Regions from separate parts of the Homo sapiens genome. Here region 2 is linked to region 1. The links come from fine-mapping of genetic effects on gene expression. A gene starts in region 1. The other region holds a variant in brackets. All regions are shown on one strand. Distances are between the middles of the regions.

Region 1 (8,335 bases):
TCATGCAGAAGGCGAGAGAGGCTGGTCAGCCCTAAGATCCCTTTTAACTACAATAACCTGGGATTCTAACTGGCTTGACAGTTTCACGTGTGTAGGTAGGTGCTAGGATACCAGCAGCCACATGAGAAAGAGGTCCAGAACTGTGCCTGGTAGCTCTTCTGTCTTCCTCTCCCTTTCTGACACCTAGGGACAGAATGGTGCATATATTGTAGGGCACACACACGCTAAAGGATACATACTAAATACAGGATACATGCTGAAGACAGCATGAGGCTTATTTGCAAGAGAAAGATCATGGAACAGAGCAGGAAAGAGGCACAAAAGGCAGCTTCTCAAACCCTGAGCTTTTATCCACTGAAAGAAGGCAAAGGCTCCTTCCACTTTCTGCTTCTACTTGGGATGTGGGCTGACAAGCACCTGACCCCTGGAACTCCTGCACTCACCATAGTGTACATCCCACATTAGTGCATCTGATACAGTATTCAACATACACAGCAGCACAGGAAAAGTCTGCCTTCCAACATGCCAAAATGTGCTTGAAAAGCTCTTTGAAGCATTTGTTATGTGCTTGAAACACACAGAACACTGGGAAGGCAGTCCTTTATTTAGATCTTTTTTGTCTGTGAAAATCAATATGTCCTTTCTAGGCTTTACTGTATAAGAAAATGTGTGTCTAATTATTGTTCCCAGGTTTCCCCTCTCAGTCTGGCCCAGTAACTGCAACGTGTCATCAAGCATCACCCAAAACATGCCACACACATGAGGGCTGTCTGTGACCCTCTCGAATGCTAATTTAGAAAAACTGCCCAGCTCTCCAATATGCCTCCATAGTCTGCTTTTAAGAACTATTTTTGTTCTCTCCTCCCACCGTGCATGGCTGAGTGTGAATAGCTGTTTCCTGGGTCCTCACTGCCAAGGTAATGGCACTCTATCCCATCTCATCACTTTCAAGTTCACCTCTACTTTGACCCCAGGACACAGCGCTCTTCACACATACTCACTTTGATCCATTATTCTCCCTCTGCTCTAGAAAGACACTTGAAATACTTAACAATGTTGCCAAATCCTCAGTCTGTCAGACATACACAGTGATTTAAATAGTCATTGTTCTTAATTTTTCTTTGCTGCTAAACCAACAAAGAAATATTGCCCTCCGTGAAGGGAAAACAGTCACAGAAACACCTTTAGAAAGCAGGGGGTAGGAGGTGGGTGGGATCAAGGTGAACCCAGCTAGAAGGACCTTCCCCATTACCTTGCAGGGCAGCAGGGGCAGCTCAGTCAGACAGTTCCCACAGGACAGAGCATTTCTGGCCAGGTTGGTACAAGATTAAAACAATGATTATGATGATGTAAGAGTTTATCTTACACATCCATGAGCTACAACTGTTAACCAATGCACACGGGGGGAGGAGGTTACATGCACATTGACTATTTAAAACTGTCCAATTTCATACATTTCGACAAAGCATTTAAAACTCTGCCAGAACAGCCCAGAATGGGTAGCGGGTGGGGTGGAGGAGAGTCTGTATTTACTTTAAAATGTGAATTAATTAGTTTAGACACAAGGAGCAAAACTACAAATGTCTTGATATCTCTTATATGTTAAGAATAAAATTACAGCTGTCTAGGGGCATTGAGTGTCCACCATTGCCCACTCTGTGTTTAGGCCTTCACACTTGTCTCACAACTCCCTTCTGCTACATTTCACACCACGCAATACCTCTGCAAGGGAGCTTTAGCTACAGGACTCAGAGGACAAGGTGCATGTTTCAGCTAAAGCACACCCCCGTTCTCAGTGCCTCAGCCCAAAGCAGCTGCTGTGTAAGAGCGGTGACGGCCGGGGAACACCCAAATGACATATTCTCCGCGTCCTTCCTATACTGTAGTGATGTTTACTGAAGTGCTGAGAAAACATGGGAGGAGACACTGGGGTAGCAAAGCCTAAAGTCAGATATCTTTGGGGAGGACTAAGCATCGGCTGCGGGTTGGGGATTTGCAGGAGTCTTTGCTTCTCTGGCTCTCCAGTTCTTTAGTAGGCTTTACCTGTGTCAAAATCAAGTGCGAGATGGAAGACTATTGCTTTGTGGGAGACCCAGGGACAACTAGCCGGGCAGAACAGGGCTGTGGTCCCGACTCCCCCAGCAGACCTTGAACGACGCCAGTCCGACTCCTCCAGAGGGGGCTGGTGACAGGTCAGCTGCCTCGCCCCGAGGGTGGGGGAAGGGCGCGCTTTCCATCCGCGTACTGGGACAGGAGTTTGGGTGCAAACTAGTAAAGGCTATGGTGCTCCCTTTACACCCAAGTAAAGGCATGTGGTTTGGGGGACGGAAGGAGATTAAGCCAATGCGGAATGCCCTACACACACTCTAGCACCACCACTTTGGGGACTTCGGTTCTCCCGCTGGCTCGGGCTTGGACCTCGGTCTGCAGGGAGAGGGTTGGAGGGACTGGGCGGCTGCGGCCCTTACCTTGCTGACCACGTTCTGGACGAGGCCGGCGCGGATGCCGTAGTCCCATGCGCGGCAGTCACAGTTGGAGGCGTTGTCCCCCTTGTCCGGAGGGGATGGCAGGGGTGGTGTGTCGCCTCCGTCCGCGCCGCTGCTGTTGCTCCGGTTGCCCGCAGCCTCCCAGGGGGCAGTGGCGAAGGGGGTGGTGGGGAGGCTGGTCCAGTTGCCCATGTCCCCGCCCCGGCCTGTGGTGGTGACCCCTGCCAGCTCGGTGCCTTTGCCGGCCCCGCGGCACCAGAAGTTGGGCTGGTCCAGGAGGAACGAGTCCGAGAACTGGCTGAAGCCGATGAACAGCGCCGGGATCCAGGTGAGCAGCACGAGGGTCTTCTGATAGCCCCCGCCCAGGCCCCCGAGGAAGGGCAGCACCGACCCGTCATAGTCCAGCAACAAGAGGCTCGGGGCCGCAGCCGCGGAGCAGCAGCTCGGGTGCGGGCCGCCTCCAGGATGCAGTGGGGGCAGCGGCTGGATCTCCGCGCCGCCGCCGGGGCCCGCGCGTCCCCCGAGGGGCGCCGAGGCCGCCGCGTCCCCGGGCGGCAGGGAGCCGTTCTCCTCGGCCGGGGCCGGCTGCCGCCCAGGCCCGCCGCCCGCCGCCTCGCGCCGCCGGTCTATGGCCATGGCCCGGGCCCGCGGCTCCCGCAGAGGCGCATAGAGCGCGGCGGAGGCTCCGCGGGCGCCCCGGGCACAGCGCGCCGGGCCAGGCGCCTGCAGCCGCTGCCGCCGAGGAGGGCCCGCGGCTCGAGAGAGAGCGCTCGGCGGCTCCGGGTGCGTCAGGCCGCCCCCATGTCACCCGCCGGACCCCGCGCCCCGGGCGCTGCGGCCCCGCTCGGGCGCCGGGCAGAGGCGGGCAGAGGCCGGCCGGGCCCTCAGCCGCCGCGGCTCATCAGTTCCGCGGCCCGGGCGCCGGCTGCCGAGCCCGCCGCTCTCCGCTGCTCCGCGCCGGACGCGGCAGGAGGAGGAGCCGGCGCCGCGCCCGGCCCGCGCCCTTGCCGGCGGTTCAGGGCCCTGCGGGCGGCGGTGCGGGCAAAGGCTGCTGCTCCCGGGGTGGCCGCGCTGTATTTCTCCGACTTCGGGCGCCTCCCGGAAGCCGCGAGCTCTGGACCCAGCCTGCCGAGCCGGCCGCGCTCTCCAGCTCCTGGAGCCGGCCCCACTCCTCCTCCTCCTCCTCCTCCTCCCCCTCCTCCCTGCCCCCCGGCCCGCCCCCTCTCCCCCCGCCGAGGTGGAGGTAACCGCGGCACCTGCTGCGCTCGGCTCCTGCTCGCGAGCGCCCCCTCCAGCCCGGACGCGCGGCCGCCGCCGCCCGGGATCCACGGGAGGGGGGCGGGGGAAACGGGACACCCCGGGCCCGCCTGGCTGGAGGATCCCCTGCCCGTTGCCCGTTTCGCGCCGGGCGGGGCGGGGGAGGAGGAGACGCGCGTAGCAGGGGTCGCCGGCCGGCGACGGGTCCCGGCAAAGTCGGCGTGCGCTGAGAACGTGTGGGCCGGGTCTTCTCTGAGGCTGGGCTCCCGCAGCCGCGCGGGCCCCCCACCCACTCCGCGCGCGCCAGGTCTCCGTGACCTCTGTCTCTTCAGAGGTGCCCGGCGGTCCCGCTGCCCGCGCCCCGCTCCCAGTCCCAAGCCCGAGGGTCTTCAGCCTTCGGGAACAACCCTCTGCGCTTTTTCCAGGAGCGAATAAGGTTGATTTTTGTGTCCGTGGAGCAGGGTCAAGGAGGCGCCTTTGCCAATTTCAGGTCGCCAGTCCCCCGCAGTGTCTGGCCACCTGCGACCCGCCGCACCCACTCCCAAATCGCCATTTCTTCCCCCACTCCTAAGTGCATGCGATGTAAGCACGATGCTGGGATATATCTCCAACACAAGTTATAATACACACAGTATAAACGTGATGGCATTCCCCACCCCCTCCCTAAGATCTTGTATTCACGTTTGGAACGCCGTGTGCACAGGCGCACACATCTATACTCTCACACAAGAAGACAAACCTCTCCCTCCTCTCCTGCTCCAGCGCCAACCTTGCCCAGCCAGCGCTGTATAAATAACACCAGCCCTGCGGCAAACGGCTACATTAGCATATTTCCTCCTGCACCCAGCGCACGCACCAAAGAGAATTATCCGGCACCTTTCAACCCAGCGTCCCCACATTTTGGAGGCATTTCATATTCTGAGAAGTTTATTAATGGAAGTCTTAAATGGAGCAATCCATTTCTAGTCTTATTTGGGGCAAAAAAAAAAAAAATGTTTAGCTTTCCAAAAGGATATATTCTAAGCTCCATATACTGAATGTATTCTTTTGCATTTTCATTATTTGCTCAGCTAACCGCTGCACAATTTAGTGGAATACATTTTTAACCTGCAGTTCAGTGTTAAGGGCAACATGTGTTTACTGCATAAAATGCTGGCACATACGTACCAGAGAACTATTTCTGAAGGCTGCCGGGGGGCGGGTCTTGGGGGACAGGGGAGGTTGTGGACCTTCCTGCGTGGCCGAGAAGGGGTGATTAGATAACAATGGGCGGAAGGGGCCCTAAGGGCTGCAAAAGACACCAGACCGCTGAGAAATGGGTCTGGAAACCACATATATAAAGAGCTGGGGGCTTGGGGCGGGGGGGGACACGATAGTGCACGTTGTGTACGTGGTAATTTTTCAACTTCACATTATTTATTAGCTTAACTTTTCTTTTCCTTCCCTCTCCTCCCCTCATTTGAAGAGCTAATACATGCAAAGTTCTGACCTCCATGCCTGGAACAGAGTAAGTGCGCAATGAATGTTAGACATGTATTATTACCAGTGCTCCTCTTGCCATTACATACAATCCACATTTCTTTTTGAATTGAAATATAACTTTACGGATTTTATTTATTTTCCTTTCAGTGGCTGATTTTCCAGAAGAGGTCCACTTTGTGTCTGGCTCTGCCTCCCTTCCCCCACAGTCACAAGGACCCATTTGTTTTCTTGTAACTGATCACAAAAGGAGCATTGCCATTGACCTTAATGGCCCTTCCAATCAGAATAACTATCATAGCCAGCGTTTCAGAGTTGGCTTTCAAATTCACACTCTCACTCAGTCCTCACATTCAGCGCCCCAAGAAGTGGGCTTTCAAAGAGAAACAGCAAGGATCAGGTGACTGACTACCAGATCAAAGAGTTGGTCCCCAGCTGAGCCAAATATCTGGTTTTGAACCCAGATTTTCTGACTGGACATTACCGGATTTCTCCATTTCATCATACAGGGGCAACTATAGGGAAGAGTTTACAAAGATGTTTGTTAATGTGCATTTTTACGTGGGAGAAGCCCTGGCCCTAGGAAAAGAGTTTCATTGTGAAGATGTTATTAGTCTTTGTTCGCAAAAGGTGGTAAAAATCCTCAAATGGTACATTCTTAGAATTTAGGGACACACTGGAAAATGGTATCCTCTAAAACTGAAGCTAAAAGGAGGCAACATAAAATGTTTGAAATTAACTAGCTGCAGCACTGACCCAGGCATTGTAATTAAGCTGTTGATTAGATTAGAGGTTTCCCTAAATTCCTCCTGGATTGATATTTCCACCAAATCTAGTCAAGAAGATTAAAGTGTAACTACTTTAAAATAAAGTGGCCTTCAATTTATTAAAACATACCACAAGTGATCTCATAACGTGAGCAAAAGGAGTAAAGAGGAAGAATTTGACACTCTGACAGCCTCAGTGGGTGAGGTTTGAGATCCATGGACCAGGATAGGAAAGCCAGACACCTGTTAAAAAATTACTGTTTTTAATTTTCTGAATGAGCATTATCATCAGCTGCTATTTTTCTTGTTTGCTTAGTTAGATTTACGTTCTGCCTCTAGAATGTAAGCACCTTCGGGGATAGGTGCCTTGTGCTCAGCTGTATGCTTGGTGGTTAAAACAGTGCCTGGTACATGCAAGGCACTCAATACATCTTTGTCAAATAAATGAGTGTATCAAGTTATTAATCACTTGATGATACTGTCTATTCAAATCATCAAACTGTTTACTTTGTTTCTTAAATCATCAAGCAACCTTTTTGTGTTTGTTCATCTCTCAAAGATGGTGCTCAGATCAGCCAACATGAGACTTGAAATGAATTTGACAATTATATGTCTTGTTGTAAGGCATTGTGGTTACTGGATTAGCTCCCAATATTATCTTCTCTTGGGCAGTATTGGCTTGCAGATGGTGGCTTATAGGCCAAATGCAGCTCACAGACCATAGGCAATGTTTTCAGGAAAATAATTGCTAACATTTCAAAATTGGGAGATTGAATACTTAGAAAAAAATGTGTTTTGGGCTTCTCTGAACATCATAGCAGAAGCCATTGTCCTTTTGATGCCCCATGTTTGCAGGACCGTGCTTTCTTGGACTGCAGTAAATGAGCAGGCACTCTCCAGCTTGCCCTCATCCCTGCCTGACACATGCCCCTCATGCATGACATTTGGCCCCCAAAAGTAGCTGTGTTTGTGACCCTAAATTTATGTGAGTATCCTGAACCCAGTGATCTTAATAAAGAAGCTGAGTCATTCCCTTTTCCTTTGAAAGTATGTTAAAGAATCTACCAGTTTATAGTTTTCTAAAAATTGAGAAAATAAGGAAAGGAAATGAAAGTCATAACCTAATCACCAATACATTTGAACAGTTTTATTTCCTTGGAGATAACAGGAGAAAAAATGTTTTAGCTTACCTCTAAAATTGATGGAAACCTAATTTTAAATCCTCTATAATTCTGTAAAAGTTAATTCTAAGGAATTCAAGTCAGGGTTAATTAACTTTAAATGTACGCTGCAAGTCATACCAAATGTATTTCACGTTGGTTTCTCTGATTATTCATGGTCTTTATACTTGAATTATAGATAGATATATCACATTTTAGAATATCCTGTGTCATTTTTTTTTTAAACTGCAGCTTGATTTCTTCCTTTCAAATAACTATTTGAAAATTAGGTTACCTTGATTTTGGGAGGGTGGGAGAAAGTGATTGAAATTATTTCCAACTCTAGTTGTGTATACTTGAATATTATTTATATCATCCTTTGCCTTTTGGAATATCAAGTCTGACTCTTTAACAAGAAATTTGACATTTACAAAACCTATCATAAATGAAAATGAAAAAGCTACTTTGGTTAAGTGACAGAAGTAATAAAAATGTCACATAATCTATCCTAAGGAAAGTTACAGGTAGTATCTTGAGAAAAACTACCTACTCATCTAGTACAAGACAAATTCATCAAAAGGCCAAGTGAAAACAGAAAAAGTGAAGATAAGACTTCTATGCAAAAAGCTACTCCATTGTAAATGTGATGGCTAGGGCCCAGTTACTTTCAAAGTTTGGTCAAAATTTAATTTTGAAGTCTTTTATTGAATTAAAAAAATTAGTGAAGCAAATCGATCTAAAATTTGATGTTGGCTTTTGTTTGATGAAAATCATAGATGTCATCTTTGTCTTACTGTACTTAAGAATGTTCTTTGGGCCAGGCACGGTGGCTCACGCCTGTAATCCCAGCACTTTGGGAGGCCGAGGGGATCACGAGGTCAGGAGATCAAGACCATCCTGGCCAACATGGTGAAACCCCATCTCTACTAAAAATACAAAAATTAGCTAGGCATGGTGGTGCGCACCTATTGTCCCAGCTACTCGGGAAGCTGAGGCAGGAGAATCGCTTGAACTGGGAGGCAGAGGTTGCAGTGAGCCAAGGTCATGCCACACTGCACTCCAGCCTGGTGACTGAGCAAGACTCCATCTCAAAAAAGAAAAAAAAATGTTCTTTGACACACACACACACACACACACACACACACGAAAATAACACAATGCCAAGACTTATAAGTGAATATTATAT
Region 2 (8,335 bases), 100 kb before region 1:
TAGCCGGATGGCCCTTTGTCCAGTGTAATCGGAGTGCGGTGGAAAATGCCAGGCAATTTAGCCTCTTAGGGTGGAAAACGAAGGGGCGAAGGAAAAGGGTTGGGGAAAAATAATCTGATGTTATCAGCTAGTGCTGGCAGAAAGACAAGTCTTGAGATTTTATGGGGTGGGGGTGGCTGAGCTGGGCAATGAACACAAATCCTGGGGGTTGCCCTGAGCGTGCCAGGCAGCGGGGAACGTTCAGCCCACAAGTACTGGACGGTCAGGACTAATGAGCAGTCATCCAGGCTCAGTCAACAGCCCTCTCTGTGGCTTCCCGCCCACCCCTCCCACTGCTCTGGAAACCTCTCTCCCCTCGACCTTTCCTGGCTTTCGCCTAAGAACACGTCACTGGCCACTTCAAAGATTCTGTAACCCATCTCCTCCCCCAGCCACACTGTACCACAGGGTGGGCCCTATGGAGCCATATTTCTGCTATTTGGTATCAAAACTGTCCCCGAGGAGACTTGCTACTTCATTCAGGACTGAGCCAGGAAACCCAGGTTTCTAATGCATTCTCATCAAATGTACATGACCCCCAGGTGAGCAGGAGGATGGGCAGCAGGGCCAAGGCCTGAGCTGCTGCAGTCATGGGGACCACCTCGAGGCAGATGGAGTTCCCATCTAGGCCACACCAAACAGGAGAGCAGGGAGGGATGCTCTGGGTGGATGACTGTCCACCACCCGACTGGTAAGGCTGCTCCGTTTCTGAAATGGGCGTCAAGGCGAAAGCACTCCATGGCCTCCCCTCCCCAGGCAGGGCTGCTGGAGTGCTGAGAGGTGGCAGAGGCCATGGCAAAACCAGGCCCACCAGGACCACAGATAAGGAAGGGAGGAACAGGGCAGGTTGTGGAAGGAGATGTGAGAGTGCCTCTTGTCCTGCTGCTCTGACAGTGAAAACCACGTACACGGACATGTACAGACACACAGACACTCACAAACATACACACACAGACATGCACACACACACACACACACAGCCATAGACACTTACAAGCATGCACACACAGACATGCACAGACACACACACACACAGCCACAAACACAAGCACATACAGACATGCACAGACACACTCACACACAGACACAGCCACAGAAGCTCACCGGCATGCATGCACAGACACACACAGACACATATTGACCCATTCACATACACGGCCACATACACACATAGGCATACTTGCAGACACACAAATACACAGACAGAGAGAAAGAGAGCAGGTGAGCACACACCAAGCCCCGGCCATAACAAAAGGGAGAAAAGGCTCTGATCTCTGCCATTCTTGTTTTTCCATCTGAAAATGAGAAACCTGCTACTGGGACTCACCTGAATCATGGAAAATGGACTCACTTGAGTCCTTAAATCATACTCTCACAGCATATGAAAACTGCCAAGCTTCCTGGAGGTCTGAGGATAAATGGTGTCGCTTACAGGTGTTCAAAAAGCAGAGAAATGACAATTCTTTAATTAATCTGAGTGAAGGAAAAGCACATAGTGCAAACCCAGAGCCAACAGCAGTTTAGAGACGCTCCCTGGATACGCATGGACAAGCCGCGTGCCCTGCAAACACCCGGGAGAAGATCAGTCGCCCCCGTGACCTGCACCTTGCTACCAGAACCCCCAGTGGTCAGCTTGTCCCAACAGGACTTTGTTGCTGAGGAACAGGGTCAAAATATGTATGAAAATACTACAGTGATTATATTCATTTTTTGCCTGAAATTTTAAGTAAGACTTTTTACCCTGTTCTTCAGCAACGACCAGACCGTGTCAAGAGATGCAAAGTCTCACCTGTGAGTGCTCCGCCTAATCTAAAATTACATGTAAGTATTATTACTTCCCTGCTCACAGGAATAATCTGTTATTCTTGGAGATTTTGAAGGCAAGATGGCAAAGGGCCATAAAAGGCACATAACTGTGGGCCTTTACCTGGCTGCTTAAACCAAAACCTGGTTTTCCAGCATTTGAACAAAAAAAGGGAAACTCCGTCTGTGTTAGATTTCCTATACCACAGCCAGCTCCCCAATGAAGAGGTGCTGCCTGATTCTCCCAGCTGCCAATCTTGCCCTCTTCTACAGCATTTTAGTTAAAATAACTTCCTGTGTCTCAACATCTGGCTTGAGCGGTTTGGCTTCAGGCCTGAATCCCACTCAATGGGAAATGCCGTGACCCTCATGCTGGGATTCACGATGTCACCTGCTTGATTGAGGTGTTCATTATGCTTTACAAAATCACATGTATAAGACTATTAGGAAAACAGTTCAGCTGCAAATCACAAGACTAGGGCTACTGGAATTTTTGCTCCCAAATCACTAGATCAGTCAACCACTGCCTTTCCAGGTAAAGGGCTGTGCTCGCCTCGTCCCATTACCGAAGCTGTGATGTGGCTCTTCTGCCCTGTGCACTGCCACCCAAATGTACTCACGTGATTTCTGGCTTCCAGGGCTGCTGTTCCCAAGAGCTCCCTCCTCAGGAAGCCACACCATTCCCCCACCTTCTTAGTAGAGGCAGACTCTCCCTTCTACCACCAGTGTTTCCCAGGACCCCAGTTCTGGCCCAGAGCATGACAGCATCGAGGAAGCCTCATGCAGAGGCTCCTTACAGATCCCAGACTACCAACTTTTCCAGGTCTCCTATGCGTGGGCTGCTTTACTTTCTCTAAGAAGGCACAAGGAAAAATGCTGGTCCTTGGGTCGGTTGACTGAATCCTTTGATGTGACAGGTAGCTAAGCCACTTATCTGGACCCATAAACCTCCTTGGCAGGCCTGATTGGATTGTGGAAATTTCGATGGTGATCACATGTGTTTTCTCCTTAGAGTTGGCATGGCCAAGACAAGAGCCACATGCAACTTCTAAGCAAAACACACACACAGGCTCACACAAACACATAGCATGGTGCACTCCCAACGGAGAGGCAGTCAGGGCATTGGATGGGCAAAGACACTCCTTTCAGGACCCTTCAAAGGTAAATTCAACAGGAAGTGCACATTTACGGAGGAGCAAGTGACTAAAGGCACTCACAGACTTTTCCTTCTCTTGACTTGTGTACCTTTACATCTTTACATGAGGTGGGTTGGGTAAACAAAAGAAAATCTCAAGAAGATTCAGATTCTCTTTCCATGTCCCTGCTGCATTTAATAAGTTCCTCGATTGTAGTGACCACTGTACTGTGGTCAGATCCATCGATATAGCAGAGACTCTGTGCCTCAAAGGCAAGGCAATGTCTTTCCATCCTCAAGAGACCCAGCATCCAGCAGGCACTCAAGAAAGGATGGGTGAACCATTTATTAGTGGGTAAAGCAATGGATGAACTGAAACACAGTCTGTTTTTAGTTGATGTCCCAGTAAGAGTGTTAGGGGGAAGTCAAGGTGTTGGAGGGGTTGCTCTAGATTTCAATGATCCACACCATCTCTAATTTCTTACTAATTAATCAAATAGTGAATGTCTAACAAATGGGGAAGGTACTATGCTGGGCCAAGTAGCCATGTAATGGGTTTCTGAATCTCATAATTCAACATCATCTTCTTCAACTGACACTTGTCTTTCCAGGTCAATTAAGCAGGCAGCCTCATTAGTTCATGGGTAGACAACACGCAGAACAGACAAAGCAGGACCTGAGGGCCAGAGGGTGACAGTATCTAACTCTGCCCCTAAAAGCACAAGGCATTTGGACAATTTGTGCTACACTCTTTCCTTTAAACAGGCAACAGGAAAAACAATAAAAGATATTCCTACTACCGAGTTTATAAAAACACAAACAAAAAAAACCAGCGCCTCTCCACATGGCAGTATTCAAATCCTTATCTTTGGGCTCCTACCCTCTATCTGCTTGGAAACAGCTCCCTGTCTTTGTGGCCGCCACCCTCCCCAGCTAAAAAAAAAAAAGTCTCCCTCCAAATACTATCCAGTAGCTCTTCAAATAAAATGGGATGAATAGAGAGGCCTTGATAACCACCAGTTTTCTCATCTTCAAACTGGAAATCAGAAATAATATCAGTAAAGACATCGACTTATTAGGTACAGTGAGAAGCCTTTGAACTTAAAAGACGGGAGGAAGACAAGCATGCTGCTCGTGGGTTCGTCACACCCTGTTCTATGCAACAAAGCAACCCTCCCTGGGTCGAGAAAAAAAATCTCCATGATGATCTCTTAGAAATATAAATGTATTTATAGATAGATATTTTCCCTCTTACCATGTGTATAAGAGAACAGGACGTTGCTGGGCAGAGGGAAGTTATTGTGTGAAGGCCAAGGTCATAACAAGGTTACCGTTCTCATGAGTCTGGGCTAGGTCTGGGCCCTCCCGCCCCGCTCCCTGTATCAGCCCCACTCCCAGGCTCCAGAGCTAGGCCACTTGATGCCTGGTCAGTCCTTTCTGTGCCTTCCCAAATTTACTC[T/C]CAATTTCTGGCTCATCTACTATTCTCATTTGCTATTTCTTAAGTTCTGGGCCACGGGAGCCCAAGGTCTCACTCAGCCCTGCACAAACCCCAGCTCTCAAAGCCGGCGTCGCTCTCACTCATTCCCTGTCTCCGCATCGACACGGAGGAGCCACTGGATATAACGCTGAGGTATTAAAAAAAGAAGGAAGTTCAGAAAAACAAACACAGTACGACAGCATTTGTAGGAAGTTTTTTTTTAAAGGCAAAACTGTACAACGCAGTGTTCTAGATGTGGGAAAACCTAACGAAACTCATGAGGATGAAAAACAGCAAACGGGGTGGGGAGACTTGTGGACAGGGGAGGGGGAGGAGGCGGGGGGCGCGGGAGGGGGAGGAGGCGGGAGGAGGCGGGGGTGGGTGGAGGCGGGAGGGTGGGACTTATTAATGAGGCTTGTTTCCGAGTCCGGGTAGCAGATACACGTGACATCAGAAACATCTCATAATCACGAAAGAAATCGAAGCACGCGTGCTCTCTCGGGAGGGCCCTCCTTCTGCGTGCCAGCCCTTGGGATCTGGACTTCTGGCTCCTGGAAACATTCAAAAGGAAACCGGTGGGCCATGGAACCGCTGACAGGATTGGATGGTAAAACAGTGTCTTAGATCCACCCTCGGTGCCTACAAGGGTAACAGGCCACACCCCCATCTCAGAGATGGCAGCGACCTCATCCAAGGGGCAGGGGAAGCCTCAGAGGAGTGATTTTAGCAGCCTCTCACTTCCTCATTTGCCTGTGAAAATAAAGCTGACCCTAAACTTACCGGCTCTGCACTACCCTCCCGCTGGCTGCTTCATTGTCCTGGGCAAATCTTCAGCCCCAGAGACAGTAGTGTTTATTTTAGAACCAAACCCGCTGGCCAGGACACCATCCACGTGAAACATTTCTTCCTAAGCCTGAAGCTTTGTTGTAACCCTGTTGTCTTCCTCCTTATTGGCTCAGCAGTGAGATGGGCTGGCTTGAACCTCCAGGTCTTGAAACCTGCCCAAGATACCAACAACCACCTGTAATAAGGTGCAGGATCCCGCTCAAGCCCTTCAGAGCATCTGTGGATGTGTTACCTCATATGCCCTCACCAAATCCTATAAATAAGAATATCAAGTAGTATCCCCATTTCCAAGATGGGAAATGGCCCCTTCAAAGGTCAGGTCACCGACACTGTGATGCAGGTGGTGTCTCTAGGAGAGGCGCAGGCTTCTAGATCCCAACTGTCGTGGTTTGTTCTAAAGGCTGCAGCAGCCTGGACCATAAAGACAATTTTAAAGCAGTAAACCTAGCAATACAGCCTGGAAGAGAAAACCAAAACAGAGCCAAAAAAAAAAAAAAAAAAAAAAAAAAAACCCAAAACAAGGCAGGCACTGTAATGAAATGCTCACATTTACTCCAGTGCCCACATCTGCATTCCCAGAGTCTCAGAAATCCAGCAGGATTCCAATGCCATGGAAATATGTATCATTGTTTTTGCCAAACAAACTCCCTTACCTTAAGCAAAGGTCAAGTACACTGTAAAACTCCCAGTGCAAACAACCAGCTGGAGGACTTATCCCAGCCTCTGTAAAGTCTTTGCTAATAATTATCCAGACAGCTTTCCTAATTTTTATTTTTAAATGGGGTTGTGGCTCAGCAATAGTGTAAGGATTAATCGCCTTATCAATTAGCATGAGGAAAGGACTGCAAATACAAAGTAGGTGTGTTCTTCCTGGCTTTCTACCTGCTCAATTAGGCTCAGGTCTTAAATGATTTCCAAAATTGGACTACATCTACTGTGTTTACTTCATTCTAAATATCAAAAAGATATCTAAAAGCTTATCATAAAAAAATTTAGAATTTCCCTTTTTGGTTACCAGCCTAAAAGCTCCTTAGTTTAGGGACTGTGTTCTTATTCAACAAGCCATGCCCAGCTCCTGGTTCACAGAACACACTGAATAATGACAAATAATGGAAAACAGAAGGCGGCTGTGTATAATGAATGCATTTCATTCACTTATTCAGCAAGGAGGATGAGGTAGCACCATGCCAGGGGAGATGCCGAGATGAAGCCACACCACCGGCCTCAAGGGGCTCACAGTCTGATGAAGAGACACGTGCCTATAAGACACAGATGGGGTTCTGTGCTACAGGAATGCAAAGAAAGGGACGAGGCCTGGGGAAGACTTCACCAAAGAAGCAGCATTTGAATCTTCCCTTAAGGGAAAAGGAAGTAGGACTGTCCTGCCATGTGGGTGAGGGGAAGGGAAGAGGCCTGGGAGGAGAGTTTTCAGAGAGGCAACCAGCTCTTGCAAAGGCGGCCAGTGCAGAAGAGGCTAGACAGGTTAGGTTCTCAGTATCAAAGTCCCCAGGATGGAGAGAAATTGGAACCTTTAAACACTGTTGGTAGGGATGCAAAAATGGTGCAGCCATTATGGAAAACAGTATGGCAGTTCCTCAAAAAACTAAAACTAGAACTGCCATATGATCCAGTGATTCTACTTCCAGGTACTTATCCAAAAGAATTGAAATTAGGATCTCAAAGCACTTGACGTGAGCGCTCCCACGTTCACTGCAGTGTTATCCACAACAGCCAAGATATGGAAACAACGCAGAGGTCCACTGATAGGTGAAGGGACACACGAAACACAGTGAAAAATACAATAGAATATGATTCCGCTTAAGAACGAATGAAATTCTGACACGTACGACACGTGGATGAACTTGGAGGAATTATGTTAAGTGAAATAAGCCAGTCACAGAAGGACAAATACTACATGATTCCACTTACATGAGGCATGTAAAAATAGGCAAATTCAGAAAATCAAAGAGTGGGCTGATGGTTGCCGGGGGTAGAGGGAGGGAGACATGGGGAGTTGCTCGTCAACTAGCATCAGCTTTCAGGCAGGCGAGATGAATAAGCTCTGGAACTCTGCTGCACACATTGTGTCTATAGTTCACGATACTGTGCTGTACACTGAAAAAACCTGTTAAGAGGGTGGGTCTCATGTTAGATGTTCTTACCACAAATAAAATTAAAAAATAAAATAAAAAAGGCCCCAGGAGAGTTTCTGTTTCATCAACCCAAGGAAAACACCGGAAGGAGTCACAGCTCCAGTGAGGAAGAAGTGAGAAGGGATCTGCCATCGGGGGCTGGAGGGATGGTGGGAACCTTTGCCATTTCAAAGGGAAGCCCTGGCTCCCCTCGGGCACAGCATCCTGGGTGGGGTCTGCACCCCGAGCTGCCACCCATTGCATTTCCATGTCAGCGCCATGTCAGGTGCGCTGTGCCGATGTCTAATCAAGTCTCAGTCATTCAGGATGAAGAGAGAATAGGGAATTCAAAATACATAACTGCAAAAATGAAAGCTCCTTTATTAATTTAGTGCAATACAGAGACGTCCCAGAACAACACGGGCTGCATCCAGAATCACAGATCATTTCAACTAAGAAAAAGATGGGCACCGAGAAGGAGAGCGAGGAACATGCCAGCTGAGACTCATTTCATTCTAGGACAGTACTAGAATGAGCATCTCACTGGGAATTCACCGCCCTCAGGCAGATAACAGATGCTGCTAAGCTATGCTAGCTGGTGTTGCCACGTTTATTCTTCATCACTGAGTGGTTCTCCTTAGGTCACACATATAACTATCCATCTGAGTGCAAGTTTAAAACAAAACAAAAACTGAAGAGGACATACAGATGGCCAAGAAGCACATGGAAAGATGCTCAACGTCACTGTCATCGGGGAAATGTACATCACAGCGACAATGTGGTAGCCCTTCACATCCATCAGGATGGTAGCTGCTGTCAAACAAACAGGAAATAACAAGTGCTGACAAGAATGTGGGGAAACTGGAACCCTGGTGCACCAGTACATTCCTGGTGGGAATGTAC

Direction of the effects. Alleles are on the strand shown, and positions count from the first base shown. SD is a standard deviation of normalised expression in the study named.
For the expression in follicular helper T cells of the gene that starts at base 3,613 in region 1, allele C in region 2 goes with a lower level than allele T (large effect, 0.84 SD a copy in Schmiedel 2018).

Evidence for each region. PIP is the estimated chance that this variant, and not a neighbour inherited with it, causes the effect.
Region 2: its variant is fine-mapped to the expression of SLC22A23 in follicular helper T cells (Schmiedel 2018, PIP 0.93).

Annotation. Positions count from the first base shown.
Region 1 is chr6:3,453,438-3,461,772 of GRCh38, forward strand. It overlaps SLC22A23 (solute carrier family 22 member 23), which reads right to left and starts at 3,613. Exons shown (of 10, transcript NM_015482.2): 1 at 2,469-3,613. The coding sequence starts at 3,122. It overlaps LOC643327 (a long non-coding RNA gene), which reads left to right and starts at 2,266. Exons shown (of 2, transcript NR_147844.1): 1 at 2,266-2,814. RefSeq lists silencers at 3,381-3,610, 3,671-3,890.
Region 2 is chr6:3,351,274-3,359,608 of GRCh38, forward strand. All of the region lies in intron 3 of SLC22A23 (solute carrier family 22 member 23), which reads right to left. Among named protein-coding and RNA genes, the nearest start is that of PSMG4, 96 kb to the left of the region's middle. RefSeq lists enhancers at 1-750, 4,870-5,760. The variant T/C (reference allele first, on the strand shown) is at 4,437.